Regions from separate parts of the Homo sapiens genome. Here region 2 is linked to region 1. The links come from fine-mapping of genetic effects on gene expression. A gene starts in region 1. The other region holds a variant in brackets. All regions are shown on one strand. Distances are between the middles of the regions.

Region 1 (8,000 bases):
TGTGTGTGTGTGTGTGTGTATTTATATTTCAGATCACAGGCAGATTTCTGGGTCTCTGTTACTTTGTGCCGGGTAGGAACAACAGTTTCTTTTTTTCTTGGAGACAGTGTTTCACTCTTGTTGCCCAGGCTGGAGGGCAATGGCGCGATCTCAGCTCACTGCAACCTCCGCCTTTCGGGCTCAAGAGATTCTCCTGCCTCAGCCTCCCAAGTAGCTGGGATTACAGGCATGCATCACCATGCACCATGCCCGACTAATTTTGTATTTTTAGTAGAGACAGGGTTTCTCCATGTTGGTCAGGCCGGTCTCGAACTCCTGACCTCAGGTGATCTGCCAGCCTCAGCCTCCCAAAGTGCTGGGATTACAGGCGTGAGCCACTGCACCTGGCCAACAGTTTCTTGGTATCAAGGGTAGAAAAACCAATGACAAATAAAAGATTGGAAAAAGGCACATGCCATCATTGCTTGGGAAAATTCTGCTGACCTATAAACTCGATACAAACTAAAGACAGATCACATTTATTTAGAATTAACCTATTTTCTGTGACTAATACTACGGTGTTATATAAGATTCATGCTGCTTTACTCAAATTAAAATGCTTCCAAAATGTGAAATTTCTCATTATGCTAAGTAAAAGAAACCAGTTACAAAAGACCAATACTATATGACACTATAAATATGAAATACACAAAACAGGCAAATCAACAGACAGAATGTGGATTAGTGGTTATCTGGAGCTAAAAAAAAAAAAAAGACACTGGGGACTGGGGAACTAGAGAGTGACTTGCTAACAGATATCAGGTTTCTTTTTAGGGTGATAAAAATGTTCTAAAATGAAATTATGGTGATGATTGTACAATCCTGCAAATACACTAAAACCCAGTGAATTATACACTTTTAAAGGGTGAGCTTTCTAGTATGTAAATTAAAATTGTATCTTTCTTTTTTTATTTGAGACAGGGTCTCACTCTTGTCACCCAGGCTGGAGTGTGGTGGTGCAATCTCGGCTCACTGCAACCTCTACTACTACCCAAGCTCAAGCAACCCTCCCACCTCAGCCTCCCAAGTAGCTGGAACTACAGGCACACACCATCATGCCTGGCTAATTTCTGTATTTTTTGTAGAGATGGAGTTTTGCCATGTTGCCCAAGCTCGTCTTGAGCTCCTGGGCTCAAGCGATCCACCCTCCTGGGCCTCCCAAAGTGCTGGGATTGCAGGCACGAGACACTGCGCCCAGCCTAGTCTTTTTAAAAGAACATTCTGACTGCAGGTAGAGAATAGAATGAAGGGATCAAAGGCATATGAGGAGACACATAAGGGGCTATATGTGCAGTCCAGTCAAAAGATGGAAGCTGGCAATTTAGACTAAGCTGGTTGCAGTGGAGAATGAGGGAAATGAATGAATCCAACATTTATGAGGTAGAATCAACAAGACTCATTAACTGGGCTTTCTCTGATTGTTAGATGTAGGGGTGAGGGATGGAAGAACAAAGACTACCAGGTTTTGACCTGAGCACCTGCAGGAGCAGGCTGAGGGGAAGGTAAGTTGTCTTGACATGCTAAGGTGAGGTGTGTGTAAGAAAGACAAGTGGAGACACCTGGTAGGCAGCGAGATATATAGGTCCAGGGTGAAGGAGAGAGGTCCAGGGTAGAGACAAAGATCTGAGAGGAATACTGAATTAGTGAGGGGAGAGAGAGAATGAGACACCCCATAGACAGCACAGAATAAGGCAGCAAGGTGACGCAGGACAAAGCCTTTAAGTACCTCAACTTTTTGGGTTATGAGTAGGCAAAAGAGATTGAGAAGTGACAGCTTCTTGTCCTGATTGCTAAGCTAAGTGGAAATCTGACACCTTAACCACATGGCTATATCAGAGTGTAGTAATGCACCATCTTCTGTAGCCCCTCCTGCCATGCTGAAAAATCATTCTAGTAAATTCAACATCTGGACCAATCCCAGTCAAAGGAGATGAAAAATCACCTGGCACACAGACCCAATGAAGTATCTAAGGATTCTCCACCAGAAGAAAATCTAGTGCTGACAAACCCATGTCTTTATTCTATCTTCTTACAGGAAGCAGCAAAGACATTTACATTTTCAGGTGAATTGGAATAGCTGCAGAAAATAAGAATTTATCAATATTTGAATACAATAAGGCAAATTATCTCATCCAAATTACCTTATGCCTTCAAATAATATAAAATAATGGAAAATTGTTCTTTAATGGGTAAACTATTGTTTGAGTTTCAACTCTGCAAGATGAAAAAGTTCTCATCTATTTCGCGACAATGTCAATATACTTAACGCTAGTGAACTATGTGCTTAAAAACAATTAAGACTGGCTGGGTGCAGTGGCTCAGGTCTGTAATCTCAGGGCTTTGGGAGGCCATGGCAGGAGGATCCCTGGAGCCCAGAAGTTTGAGACCAGCCTGGGCAACATAGCAAGACCCCATCTCTACAAAAAATTAAAAAATTATCCAGGCATGGTGATGCACGCCTGTATTCCTAGCTACTTAGAAGGCTGAGCCAGGAGGATTGCTTGAGTCTGGGAGTTGGAGGTTACAGTGAGCTATGATCATACCACTATACTCCAGCTTGGGTAACAGAGCAAGACCCTGTCTCTAAAAAAAAAAAAGTAAAGAAAAAAAAACTAAAAAAAAGCTTAAAAGAGTAAATTTTATGTATTTTTATAATTTAAAAATAAATAATAGTATAATTACATTATTAAAATAACACATTCTCTGCTATGGTTTGAATGTCTTCTCCAAGACTCATATTGAAATTTAATTGCTATTTTAACAGTTGAGAGGTGGAACCTTTAAGAGGTGATTAGGACATGAGGAGTTTGCCTTTGTGAGTGGATTAATGCCATTATCACAGGAGTCAGTTATCACAGGAAAAAAGGATAAGTTCAGCCCCCTTTCTCTGTCTCACAGGCTCATTTGCCTTTCCACCTTCCACCATGTGATGATGCAGCCAAAGGCCCTCATCAGATCCCGGCTCAGAACCATGAGTCAAATACACCTCTATTGTTTATAAATTACTCAGTCTCAGGTATTATGTTATAACAGCAGAAAATAAAGACAGTCTCCCAGCACCAAGTAAAGTGAAAGGCCTTGCTTAACACTGGAAGAATATGTCAAAGAATAACATATACTGTGAGTTCCATCACATGTTTAGTGAAAGTACTGTACTTCTGCTCTGAAAAACATATTGTAGTCTATATTTTAGATTTACAATAGGAGGCACCAATGTCGCTTGTTGAAGTGAGACATTTCTCCTCCTATTCCTGGAGACAATTCTGGATAGCATTTCCTCAATCTCCCAGTTTCATATGGTCAGAGGAAACTCCCTTACCTCCCTAATCATCCCGAAACTCACCTTGAAAACATTCACATGCCTCTCTGTCAACGAATCCATCCAAACTTAAGTTTTGCTGAGCAAAGCCCGCTGCCACTAACTGATGCTACCTCTTCTTTTCTCTCTGGAGCCGGGGACACCCTACCTTGTTCTAGACCTTGTCATGTTCTACCTTGTATTACAGTTCACTTTCCATACACGTGTCCTCCCCCACGATACCGTTACGTTTCTTAAGAGGGGATCTGGATCTGAGTCTGGTTCCTCTTGGCAACCACCACACAGCCTAACAGCGTGGTATGAGTCGGCGCCTCCTCAATGATAAAGAATCCTAAAAGGAGTCTCCGCTGGCTTTTCACTGCCACATCCCATTCGGGGGTGGGAGAGAAACAAAGAATGCAAGAAAGAGCGGGCGTCCACCTAACAACTCAAAAAAGTCAAATCTTCCCAACACATGAGTGTCTAAACCATTCAGAGAGCAGGGCAGTAAAAGGGAAAAGGCCGCTTCTGGGACGAGGCGTTAAGAATTAATCAGATACAGTCCTAAGCCGTTTGAGGGGCTCACACACCAGCGAAGGAGGCAGACACTGAGAGGCACGATGACAACACTCGATGGGACCTCGGATCCCCAGGGGAAGGGGATGTAGCTTCCTCCCAACCAGCCTCGGCCCAGCAGACACCACCCTCTGCCGCCCTCAGTAGTTCCCGCACTCACTCTTGTCCAGAGGCCGGGTTAGCTCGGCCCCGACGTCGCCGTCGGCGCTGGGGCCCTGAGGTTTCACAGTCAGGGGCACGAACAAGGACGTGTTTGGTATTTTGGAGCCACCGGAGGCAGAGGAGGAGGCGGTGGCAAGGACAGAAACTTGCCCCAGAACCCCGGGAAAGGGCCCAAAGTGGGGACGAAGGGCAGAGCAGATGGCTGCCCGGTGGCCAGCCTGGCGCCCCGCCGGGAGCCGAGCCCACAATAGGGCACGGGAGAAGGACATCGAGGCCGCAGGTTCTACACTGTCTGGCGCAGCCGCGGACACGGCGGCGGACAGTGACGCGCACCTCCAGCGCCTGCTGTCCAGAAAGACCCAGGCCGAGCAGGTAAGCTGCCCGGGAAAACGCCTGACCGTTAAGGAAAACGCCGTGCCGTGAGGGTGTTCTTTCAGGGAAAAAGAAGATTAGCAGGCAAAACCACTAGAGATAATTCTCGTTCTCTTTCTCTGTTTTGTTGGTGATTGGGACCACCTTTCCCTAAAGAAGGGAAAATAATCAGGCATCTTTGGGATGTCATACATGAGCGGAGGGGGCCTGCTAGTCGTGTCACGTGATGCAAACTAGTACTTTGGTAAGCAAGTGTCCAGAAGCACGTGGGTGAGCAGTGAGAGAATGGGTGGTGGAGCAGCAACTGCGAATGCTCAGGGTACGAGTATGTCTTGCGGACTCAAACACTAAATAGCATTTCCCAAAAGTTTCTTGCATTGTTAACCGTCATTTCCTGATATGATAACGTTAGCGATAATAACTTGATATGCCCCTCAGAAATGTTGCTAAGAAATATTGTTGCACTATTAAACCCCTTGTATTACGTAAGTACTTTTGCTTTAATGTGAGCAGTTTGCGTACATCATCCTAGCAGCTATGACCACATAGTTGTGACCACATGGCAAAAATACGTGCTCTGTACCCCAGCCATAGTTTCGTTCCATTGCATTTGTTGAATACCGTGTTCTCATGTGAGGCTGCAACATGTTAAATTCACAAGTTTAACCCGGGCGTGGTGGTTCACGCCTGTAATCGCAGCACTTAGGGAGGGCGAGGCCGGTGGATCATCTGAGGTCAGGAGTTCGAGACCAGCCTGGCAAACATGGTGAAATCCCCTCTCTACTAAAAATACAAGAATCAGCCGGGCGTGGTGGTGCACACCTGTAATCCCAATTACTAGGGAGGCGGAGGCAGGAGAATCGTTTGAACCTGGGTGCCAGAGGTTGCAGTGAGCCGAGATCGGGCCACTGCTCTCCAGCCTGGGCAACAGAGTGAGACTCCGTCTAAAAAAAAAAAAAATTCACAAGTTTAGCATCTCCATCCACATCTCTTTATACTTACATCATTAAGATCTTACAACTTGAAGGAACGTGTTATGTAATATACAATACTGTATGTCTAATAGGATTCCAGTAACAATTTGCCACGTGCCTTTGATTCACAAAATAATTTTTAAACATCAGGGATACAAGGAGACAGTCCTTTGCTTTCAAAGGTTCTGATCTGGTTTTGGTGGTAAGAACAGTACACGTTAAATAATGCACTTATTACTCTAATAGACTAATGGCAGTTCAAAGAAAGGAGCAATTTGAGAGTGGTAAGGAGATTTCTGCCAGACTTAAAAGTAAAACATAGAGAAGCGGTAAGTAAATTCTAGTCAGTGGAAACGATGTAAGCAGAGGCTTAACTAAGGAAAAGACATACTGAAAAAAATTTAAGTAACAGAGTTAACGCAGACCTAATTCTATGGCTTACAAATAGTGATTATATTTTTGAGAAGAGAAATCATTCATTAGGAAGTACCTAGGATAGACTAGGATAAACACAAATATGCAGGGAGGAAAATTACAACTTTATCAACAGTTCTAGCTGAAGGTGGTAGATTCCTGTGTCTGAGTTATGATGGAGACCATGTATGTGGAATGAGAGGTTTTACAAGACTCCTTAGATAATGTAGTGAGTGACTAAATATGCTAGAAAATGTTAATAAACAATGATGTCTCGTCAGATTTGGAAACTAGGAGAATGAAGGATAAACCAAACGTTTAATACGTAACTGAGGCAAGCACTATGTTGTTCCTTTTAATCTTTTAATATGCTTGACAACAATTTAGAGGTATTATTGTCACCAGGTTAACTAACTTGCCCCAGTAAGTGGTAGAGTCAGATACAAATCTAAATCTTTTTTTTTTCTTTTTTTTGAGACAGTCTCACTCTGTTGCCCAGGCTGAAGTGCAGTGGTGCAATCATAACTCACTGCAACGTCCACCTCCCAGGCTCAAGCAATTCTCATGCCTCAGCCTCCCGAGTAGCTGGGACTACAGGCTTGCACCACAATACCTGGCTAATTTTTGTATTCTCTTTAGTTTCACCATGTTGGCCAGGCTGGTCTCAGAACTCCTGGCCTCAAGTGATCCAGCTGCCTCGGCCTCCCAAAGTGCTGGGATTACAGGTGTGAGCCACCGTGCCCAGCCAGTCTTTCTGATTTCAAAGCAAATAGGTGGGCTTTTTGGACAGGAGCAGCATATTAGGCCAGAATCAACATTTGTACGAGTCTTTTTTTTTCTTTGGAAGGGTGATCGTGAACTCCTGGGCTCAAGCAATCCTGTGTCAGCCTCCTGAGTAACTGGAACTACAGGTGCATGCCACAGCACCTGGCAGTTACTAGTCTTACAGATCTAGCCCAACCCTAGTATAGTTTTACAGAAAAAAAAAATCCTCAAAACTATTTTAACTGTAATTTTGTTTGCACCTCCTTGCAGGTAGAAAATGCAATCTGAATTTTATGATAGCACATACAGGCTTTCCCTTTCAGCCATTCATTAAGTTCTACTATAAACATTGAAATGGGAAAATTCAATATAAAATTTTTGCTTTTACAAAAAAAGATGTCATATCTATACTGGTTATGTCATATTTATAGCAGTAAGTGTAATCAGCACCTAACACATATTAGAGCCTCTATAAATGTTTTATTTTGCTTGTTGAATGGATTAATGCAGTAACTATGTAACTGGTATCCTCCTATACTTTGCCGTAGCACCATAATGATCTTTTGAAAACACAAATCTGGTAAGTTACTCCTGCTTAGAGTCCTTTGGTGATTCTGAATAAATGTTCAGATAAAGCCCATATTCCATCGTATGGCATCCAGGTTCTGTCCTAAATTGGTTGGCCCTATATGCCTCTTCCAGCTTTATTTCTACTCCCCACATCTACCATTCTATTCATGCTGGAACTATACACCAGTTATATCATCGTTTCTTACCTCTGCACCTCTGAACACACTGGGTGCTTCTCTTACATATCACAGGTCCCAGTAGAGGCTCTATCATAGAATGAAAACTATCGTAATTGTGTCTCTGGGTCAGTGGTTCTTAAACGTTAGAGTGCAACAAGATTGTTGGGCCCCATCCCTGAAGTTTCTGATTCAGTAGATCTGGAGTGGGATCTGAGAGTTTACATTTCTAAAACATTTCAGATGATGCAACTCTGCTGGTCTGAGACCACACTTTTGAGAACCACTGCTCTGGATTAAAGTTCCTTCAGGATAGGGCCAAGATAACACTTACTCCATTTTGCATTGCTATAACAGAACACCACAGACTGAGTAATTTGTAAAGAAAATGAATTTATTTCTTTTAGTTCTGGAGGCTAGGAAGTCCAAGATCAAGAGGCTGGCATCTGGTGATGGCCCTCTTGACATAACCTGGTAGAAGGCATCACATGGCCAGAGAGCAAGACCTGTGTGTCAACTCAGGTTTCTCTTTTCTTACGAAGCCACCAGTCACATCATGGGGGACCCACACTGAGAACTTTTATCTAATCCTAATTACTTCCCAAAGGCCTCACCTCCAATCAATATATGAATTTGATGATTAAGTTCCAACAC
Region 2 (8,532 bases), 58 kb after region 1:
ATCTCGGCTCACTGCAACCTCTGCCTCCCGGGTTCAATTGATTCTCCTGCCTCAGCCTCCTGAGTAGCTGGGATTACAGGTGTGCGCCACACCTAATTTTTTTATTTTTAGTTGAGACGGAGTTTCACCATGTTGGTCAGGCAACTTCCGCCTCCCGAGTAGGTGGGACTACAGCAATGCGCCACCACACTTGGCCAATTTTTTTTTGTTTTTGTATTTTTAGTGAAGACGGGGTTTCGCCATGTTGGCCAGGCTGGTCTCAAACTCCCGACTTCAAGGTGATCCGCCCACCTCGGCCTCCCAAATTGTTGGGATTACAGGTGTGAGCCACCGCACCCCGTGAGATCTTTTAAGTGCAAAAATACTACTCACTTCTTTTGGTAAAGATATCTTCAAGGGCGCATTTGGAATATTGCGATTTTCAGGATTAACTATTAATATGCAAGTTAAAACTCTTGAGCTTTTAAATAACTGGACTGCAATATATATGACTATAAAAACATGCTAGCAATTGTTTTTATAGTTTTCTAATCTTGGCCTAAACCTCCTATCACTGACTTTAGGTTAATTTAGGATTTTTCATATAATTTCTGAACCCAATATTGAGCATTACCAATTAGCAAAAATACATGGTAGATACATAAAAAGGCAACTTTTTAGTCCCCACTGAAGGAATTTCACTAAGTCCAGTGGATGTAAAGAAATGCAACTCATTGCATTTCTGAGGTGGAAGGCTGACTCTCAAAATTCATTCACTTAGCCCATACACAAGCAATGAAACAGCAAATTTTCATACATATATTACATCTGTGACCATTTCAGTGTTTTAAAGTTTTACAATTTAGTTTCTGTTTGGGTAACTTGAAAATATAAACTGCTCTTGAACATAATTCAAAAAAGCGTATTAAAAGTAATAATTACAAATGTAAGCAAAAAATAGGAGGACCTTTTAAGTTTTCTTTTCAAATGATATTCAATTAAAGAAGCCTGCCCTAACACTGACTAGGCAAGGTCCCCCAATACTTCCTTCTTAGTATCTGTCACAATTCTAATTTCCACGTTAAACAAATAATTTACACAAATAAATGTTTATCTCTCCCTACATTGTAAGCTACGAGAGCAGGTAGGCGCTGTTTCCATTTTACTGGGGTCCCCTAGGCACACCTGAGCAATTATTTGTTGAATGAAAGAAAAAAAGCTCTAAGAATGAACATGAATGTCTGGATTTTGTTTTGTTTTGTTTTGAAAGCAACATCATTACTGAAATTAAAAGTTATTTATTCAAAGTAGCTTTTTAAAAATATACCTGGCTCGGCCTTTTAAGCCAAAAGTCTCAAGCAGTCTATTGAATCAGTGAGCTTTGGGAAGAGCAGGTAGTATTAGGAGAGCATACAGTAGGCGCTAAATGAAGAGAACTGACGACTACTACCAGAAAATGGGTAAAATGAGATCTAACCTAGAGACTGCCGACACCCAGCTAAATACCACAATGCCCAGGCTAGTGCTTCCGCGGACTGTGGTGAGAGCACTGATTCCCCTCCCTCCTCTGCCTCATAGGCCGTTTCAACAACCCAGAGCGTTAAGTTCAGCGAAATAGCTTGCGGACGGAAATGAGAGCCAATGCTTAAAACGGCGGGCACCAAACGGGTGTCTCTGGAGTTAAAGATATCCCCCATTCCAACGTCCTTTTATTTTTCTCTCCCATTTTACAAGTGTCAACAGAAAGCCTGAACTGGGGTCATGAAATCAAAGAATGTCACCATAGTCAGGTTTTAAAATATCAGAGTTTATCAAGTTCGTGACACACTGAGTGCCCAAGTCCCCCGAAGAGTCCGGAGGTGGGGGGCTCCCGGGTCGCCCCACCTGGATGGAAGAGAGGCTGCCCGGGAGGAGAACAGGGACTGGCTACCTAGGAAGGGGAGGCGGCGACCAGCCCCCGCAGAGGCGGGGTCCGAGTCCCCAGCCAGAGCCCCAACAAGCAGTCGAAGAACGCGGGCAGAGGCTCCGACATGGCCAGGAGAGCACGCCGCCGCCCGTAGGTGCTCGGGCCTCGCCGAGACCGGGAAGAGGTGGCGCCGCCAGCTTTTCCCAGACCCAGGGGTGGCCCGACAGGCCTAACCCCGCTCCCCGCCCTGCTCCCCCGTCCCCTCCTCCGGCGACGCCCGGCCCGCGGTTGGCCGGCCCGCCGCGCGCTCCGGGACGAGGGCGGGAGGCGAGCGCGCTGGCCGCCGCGCACTCACCATTGTCAACGCCGCCGCCGCGTCCCCCCTACTCCACTCCTCTTCCCTCAGGAGAACTCCCAGCCCCGGCTCCCTCCGCTCCGGCGCTCCGTCACGTGACCTCGGGCCGCCCCTCACACGTGACCGCTCCCTTCCTCTCCCCCACCCCCGCACCCGTCCCTCTCCCAGCCTCCTGCCCCGCCCTGCTGGCCGCCAGGCACTCCGGGGAGAGGCCGCTTGGAGGCGGGGCCTCAGGCTCCACCCTTCGGAGGGTGGAGAGGGGCGGGCAAATTACGTCGAGTGGGCGGGGCCTGAACAGAGGCGGGTTCGCGGGCTCCTCCTCGCCGTCTCTTCGGTCACCGGACGAGCGGTTCCGTGTCCGGCCTCTTTACCGCACCCAGTTCCTCTTTGTGAAAGTTTGAGCGGCTGGGAAGGAAGGAGGAGAGGAAGGATTCATCTGGAGGCTCTCTCCTTGGCTGGGTCCTTGGGTTGCCGAGGCGAGTGGGAGCCCTACTTCCTTAGGCCTCGCAAGAAGAGATGTGCTCTCTTCGTCCACGGCGAGGCGTTCTGCCACCTTGCCTGAACGCAGTCCCGCTCCACCTCCTTCTGAGTCTGGGTTTTCTTAACTTGGCTTTCTCGCCTCTGAAGAGAAGACCAGTAGAAAAAAATCCTAGGGTACAACTTTCATTGCTTCCCAAAGTCCCCAGATGGCCCCTGAGCGACCCACCCTGAGCCTGGAGGGCTCACAAACCCACCGTTCCGCCCAGCCGTTCTGAGAGGGCAAAGGCGCTCCCCCGAAAGTCCCACGGCGCAGCTGAAGACTACGCTGGCCTGAACTGGATCCTCCTCCCTAGTGTAAGCCTATAGGACCTCCAGATGAGGAAAATACTGTGTGGGATTTCAGAGTATAGTGTTGAAGGGCCACAGTGCACTCTATGCATAACCAAAGCAGAAGAAAAATCCATCCCTGAACGCACTATAATTACCCCACCTTAAAACAGAAGTTTGTGAGGCGAGTCCATGAAACAGGTATCAAAAAAAATTTTTTTATACTTAATCCTCAGTGTGAGCCTCAAATTTAAGAGGATTGAAATCAGAGTATCATCTCTAACCGCAATAGAATTAAAATTAGAAATCAACCCAAACAAGCCAGAAAATTCCGGAAATATTGGAAATTAAGCAACATAATTCCAAATCTCTAGGTCAAAGAAGAGATCAATGGAAATTTAAAAATAAGTTGAGGCCGGGCACGGAGGCTCACACTTGTAATCCCAACACTTTGGGAGGCCAAGGCAGGTGGATCACCTGAGGTCAGACACGAGTATCTCTTGAATCCGGGAAGCGGAGGTTGCAGTGCCCGAGATGGAGCCACTGCACTCCAGCCTGGGCGACAGAGCAAGACTCTGTCTCAAAAATAAAAAATAATAAAAATAAAATAATTTGAAATAAAAGATAATAATACAACATATCAAATTTGTGGAATGCAGTGACACTGTGTAAAAGGAAAATTTGTAGCTTTAAATGCACATATTTGGGCCAGGCATGGTGGCTCACAGTCTATAATTCCAGCACTTTGAGAGGCCGAGGCGGACGGATCACTTGAGGTCAGAAGTTTGAGACCAGCCTGGCCAACATGGCGAAACCCCGTCTCTACTAAAAATACAAAAATCAGCGGGGCATGGTGGTGCACGTCTGTAATCCTAGCTACTCGGTAGGCTGAGGCAGGAGGATCACTTAAACCTAGGAGGCAGAGATTGCAGTGAGCCAAGATTGCGCCACTGCACTCCAGCCTGGTGACAGAGCGAGACTCCATCTCAAAAAAAATAAATAACTATAGTAACACTGATATTGTTGTCTGTTTGAACTGTGAAAAGAAAGCAGCAAAAACAATGCAAATCTTTAATTAATAAAAGTGAAAAATGGTTTTTTTCACTTAGAAGATTTGCCTGTCACCTTGAGAGCTACTCTGGTTCCTACCCACTCTTTTCTGGGACTTAAATATCAACATAACAAAGAGAATAGATGAAAATGCCACACAGGCAAAGAAATACTAGCGAAGCCAGGTATAAATAAGAGGTGGCAAAGAAAGTCACACTAGAAACCAATTTGTACTAATTATTTATTCTACTGATCAAAACCCAATCAATAATTGTGCTATCATAATAAATACAAGAAGCAACAGAATTGTTGAGCTAGTTATTTGTCTGTCTGCCTACCTATCAATCTATTCAGCAAGCCAGAATGTTAGAGCTAGATTGTGAGCAGTACAGTGTTTCACCAGCTGAGAACTGTGGCATCTCTATATTTGCCCTCTGCCAAAAAAAAAAAAAAAAAAAA[G/AG]GTGGGGTGTGTGAGGAAAATGTGACTAACTTACAGGGATTGACTTTCATCAACAAAAGTACCGAGTTTAGGTCAGAAAGTATTAGATGATAAGATAATCTGAGCTTTTATCAATCAGAAACCAGTTAAGAGAAAAATAGTCATTTGTTCAAATTCACAAAGACTAAAAATTCACATTAATAACTGTGAGAGTGTCAGGGAGCAGCTGTTTGCAGAGTTCACTGGCAAAGTTAAGGGAAGAGAATAAAATACAAATACACAAAAAGGATAAAGAAAGAAAATACAATTTAGGCCGGGCGCAATGGCTCACACCTGTAATCCCAACACTTTGGGAGGCTGAGGTAGGTGGATCACTTCAGCCCAGGAGTTTGAGACCAGCCTGAGCAACATGGTGAGACCTTGTCTCTTGCAAAAGAACAAAAATTAGCTGGGAGTGGTGGCATGTGCCTATTGGACCAGCTGCTCAGGAGGCTGAGGTGGGAGGATAGCTTGAGCCAGGGAGGCAGAGTTTGCAGTGAGCAGAGATTGCACCACTGCACTCCAGCCTGAGCAACAGAGCGAGACCCTGTCTCAAAAAATAAATAATAAATTAATTTAATTTAAAAATAAAATACAATTTAAAGCATGCCAGTGAAGTATAGAAACACTTTTTTCTTTTAACCTCCCAGAGCACATAGAATAGATTTTGCTTAAAAACTTTAGCGAGTGCAGCTGTAATCATGGTAAATATTCTTTTTTTAAAAAATTACAATTATAAAAGCCAAACATTTTTTCACAATATACAGTTTTTTCTTAAATGTACCAATACTTAATGTTTTATCTCACTATTCCTCTTTTCTTTTTAAAATGAGATATAATGTACATACAGTGACATATGTTAGTCTTAAGTGTGCAGTTTGATCAGTTTTGACAATTGCATACATTTTGATTGTGCATGGTGTCACAGGGCGCCGTGGCTCATGTCTATAATCTCAGCACTTTGTGAAGCCAACACAGGAGGATTGCGTGAGGCCAGGAGTTCAAGGCTGCAATGGTCGTGTCGCTGCACTCCAGCCTGGATGGTGGAGCAAGACCCTAGTCTCTAGAAAAAATTTAAAAATTATCCAGGTGGTGGGGCATGCCTGTAGTCACAGCCGCTCAGGAGGCTGAAGCGGGAGAATTGCTTGAGTCCAGGAGTTCCAGGCTATAGTGAACCACACTGGTGCGACTGCACTCCAGTTTGGGCTACAGAGCCAGGCCCTGACTCTTAAAAAAAAAGCATACATTTGTTTAACCCACACCTTCATCAAGATATAGATGACTGCCATCAACCCCAGAAAACTTTCTCACATCCTCTCACAATCAATCCCATCTCCTAGACGCAACCACTGTTCTGATTTTTTTTTGATATTGATTAGCTTTGTGTGTTCTATAGCAAAATAATAATGGAATCATACCACAAGTGTTCTTTTGTGTCTTGTTTCATTCCCTAAGCAAAATGGTTTTGATACTTATTTATGTTGTTGTATGCATCAGCAGTTTGTTCCATTTCATTGCTTATAGTAGTATTCCATTTTGTGAAGAGACCACAAAATATCCTTTTTCCTGTCAGTGGACATCTTTTTGCCCATTTTTTTCTATTGTGAACAAAGTGCTACTATGTACACGCCTTTTTTGTGAACCTAACCGAAGTGGAATTGCTGGGTTGGGTTAGGTGTATATTTAATTTTACAAGAAAATGCCACATCACTTTTTAAACTGTTTGTGCCATTTTATCCTCCCATCACGAGTGTGTGAAATATTGTTTCTATATCCTTGCTAACATTTGGTGTTGTCAGTGTTTCTAACATTAGTCATTCTTATGAGTGTGTGGTTTTCTCACTGTGATTTTAATTTGCTTTTCCCTGATGATTAATGATTCTGAACACTTTTTCATGTGCATATGTATCATTCACATATACCTCCCTTTGGGAAGTGCCTGTCAAGACTGCCAATTTTTAGTTAAGATGTTTATTTTCTCATTGAGTTATAGTTTATCAAATATTTTGAATATAAGTCCTGTATCAAATGTAGTAATTGCAAATATTTTCTCCCACTCTGTGTGCTTATTTACTTTCCTAACAATGTCTGTTGATGACTTGAGAATTTGGACTTTTACATTTAGGTGTAAAATGTAAAATGAGATCCATCTCAAACTAAATTTTGCAAATAGTATGGGGTAAGATTTGAGAGCTTATTTGTGTCTACATGGTTCCAGCACCATTTGTTGCAAACACTTACCTTTCCCCCTTAAATATCTTTGGTGTTAGCCGGGCGCGGTGGCTCATGCCTGTAATCCCAGCACTTTGGGAGGCTGAGACAGGTGGATCACCTGAGGTGAGGAGTTCAAGACCAGCCTGGCCAGTATGGTGCAACCCCGTCTGTACTAAAAAATGCAAAAATTAGCTGGGTGTGGTGGTGCGTGCCTGTAATCCCAGCTACTCAGGAGGCTGAGGCAGAAGAATCATTTGAGCCTGGGATGCAGAGGTTACAGTGAGCCAAGATTGGGCCATTGCACTCTAGCTTGGGCAACAGAGTGAGACTCTATCTCAAAAAAAAAAAAATATATATATATATATATGTATATATATATATGTATATATATATATACATATATATATGTCTGTATAGATAGATAGATATATCTTTGGTGTTTTTGTAAAAAATCTATTGACTGTATAATTGTGGGCCTATTTCTGAAATTTCTAGTCTTTTCCATTGATCTGTTTGTCTATATTTATGCAATACTACACTGTCTTCAATACAATAGCTTTATAGTAAACCTTGAAGTAAGGTACTGTAATTATTCCAACTTGTTATTTTTCAAAAATGCATTGGCTATTCTAAGTTCTTGTATTCCAACATACATTTATAAATTGTGAATCCACTTCTCCAAAAAAAAAAAATCTACTGCTTGGAAATGGTTTGAACCTACACCTTAATTTGGGGAAAATTGGTGTCTTAACAATATTGGGCCTTGCAATCCATGAATATGGTGTATTTATCTATTTTTCTAAATAAGTAGAGAAAACAGCTTTAATTTCTTTTGGCAATGTTTTGTAGTTTTCAGTACCTTTCATATCTTTTGTTAAATTTTTTTCTAAGCATTTATTTTTTGACACTATTGTAAATTGTATTAATTTTTTTTTTTTATTTTCTGGCCTGGTATGGTGGCTCACACCTGTAATCCCAGCACTTTGGGAGGCCGAGGCAGGAGGATTGCCTGAGCCCAGGAGTTCAAGACAAGCCTGGGCAACATGGCAAGACCCCGTCTCTATACCAAATTTAAAATTTTGTTTTAAAAAAATATTTTCTAATTGTTCATTGCTTGTGCATGTGTTTGTGTGTGACTTTTCTACAATAACTTGGTATCTTGAAACCTTGCTAAATTTCTCTGATAATTTCTTCCCATCTTTTCCTCTCCTCTTTCATCCTGGGTCTTCTATTAGTTGCATATTGGAATTCCTGAATTGATTATGTCATTTTCTTATCTCTTCTTTTCTATTTTCCATCTAGTTGTCTCTTTGTTCTCCTTTCTAAATAATTTCTCCAATTTTATGTTCCAACTCTTATGATTTTTTTTTGAAATGACTGTGTTATAGTAGCCAGCCTCCAAGATATTCCCCGATGATCCTTGCCTTCCAGTATTTACACTCCTTTGTAGTCCCTTCTCAAATGTTGTCAACACTGGTCTGTGTGACCAACAGAATAAAATGGAAGTGATGTGTGTGACTTTCACGGCTGCTTCTGACTTGCTTTCTCTTGGGTCACTCATTCTGGGAGAAGTCCAATGGAGAGGTCCACATAGTGAGGAACTGAGATCACCTGGAAATAGCCAGAACTAACTTGCCAGCCATGTGAGTGAGCCATCTCAGAAGCTAATCCTCCTGCCCTCATTAACTCTTCAGGTGACTGCAGCCTCAGCTGACAAATTGACTGCAATTTCATGAAAATCTCC

The links.
Region 2: its variant is fine-mapped to the expression of SUPV3L1 in lymphoblastoid cells (TwinsUK, PIP 0.95).

What each region holds. Positions count from the first base shown.
Region 1 is chr10:69,176,636-69,184,635 of GRCh38, reverse strand. It overlaps SUPV3L1 (Suv3 like RNA helicase), which reads right to left and starts at 4,402. Exons shown (of 15, transcript NM_003171.5): 1 at 4,074-4,402. The coding sequence starts at 4,344. RefSeq lists an enhancer at 4,318-4,687.
Region 2 is chr10:69,117,989-69,126,520 of GRCh38, reverse strand. VPS26A (VPS26 retromer complex component A) reads right to left here and starts at 2,343. Exons shown (of 9, transcript NM_004896.5): 1 at 2,241-2,343. The coding sequence starts at 2,243. RefSeq lists enhancers at 1,379-1,885, 2,750-3,109 and a silencer at 2,090-2,489. The variant G/AG (reference allele first, on the strand shown) is at 4,557.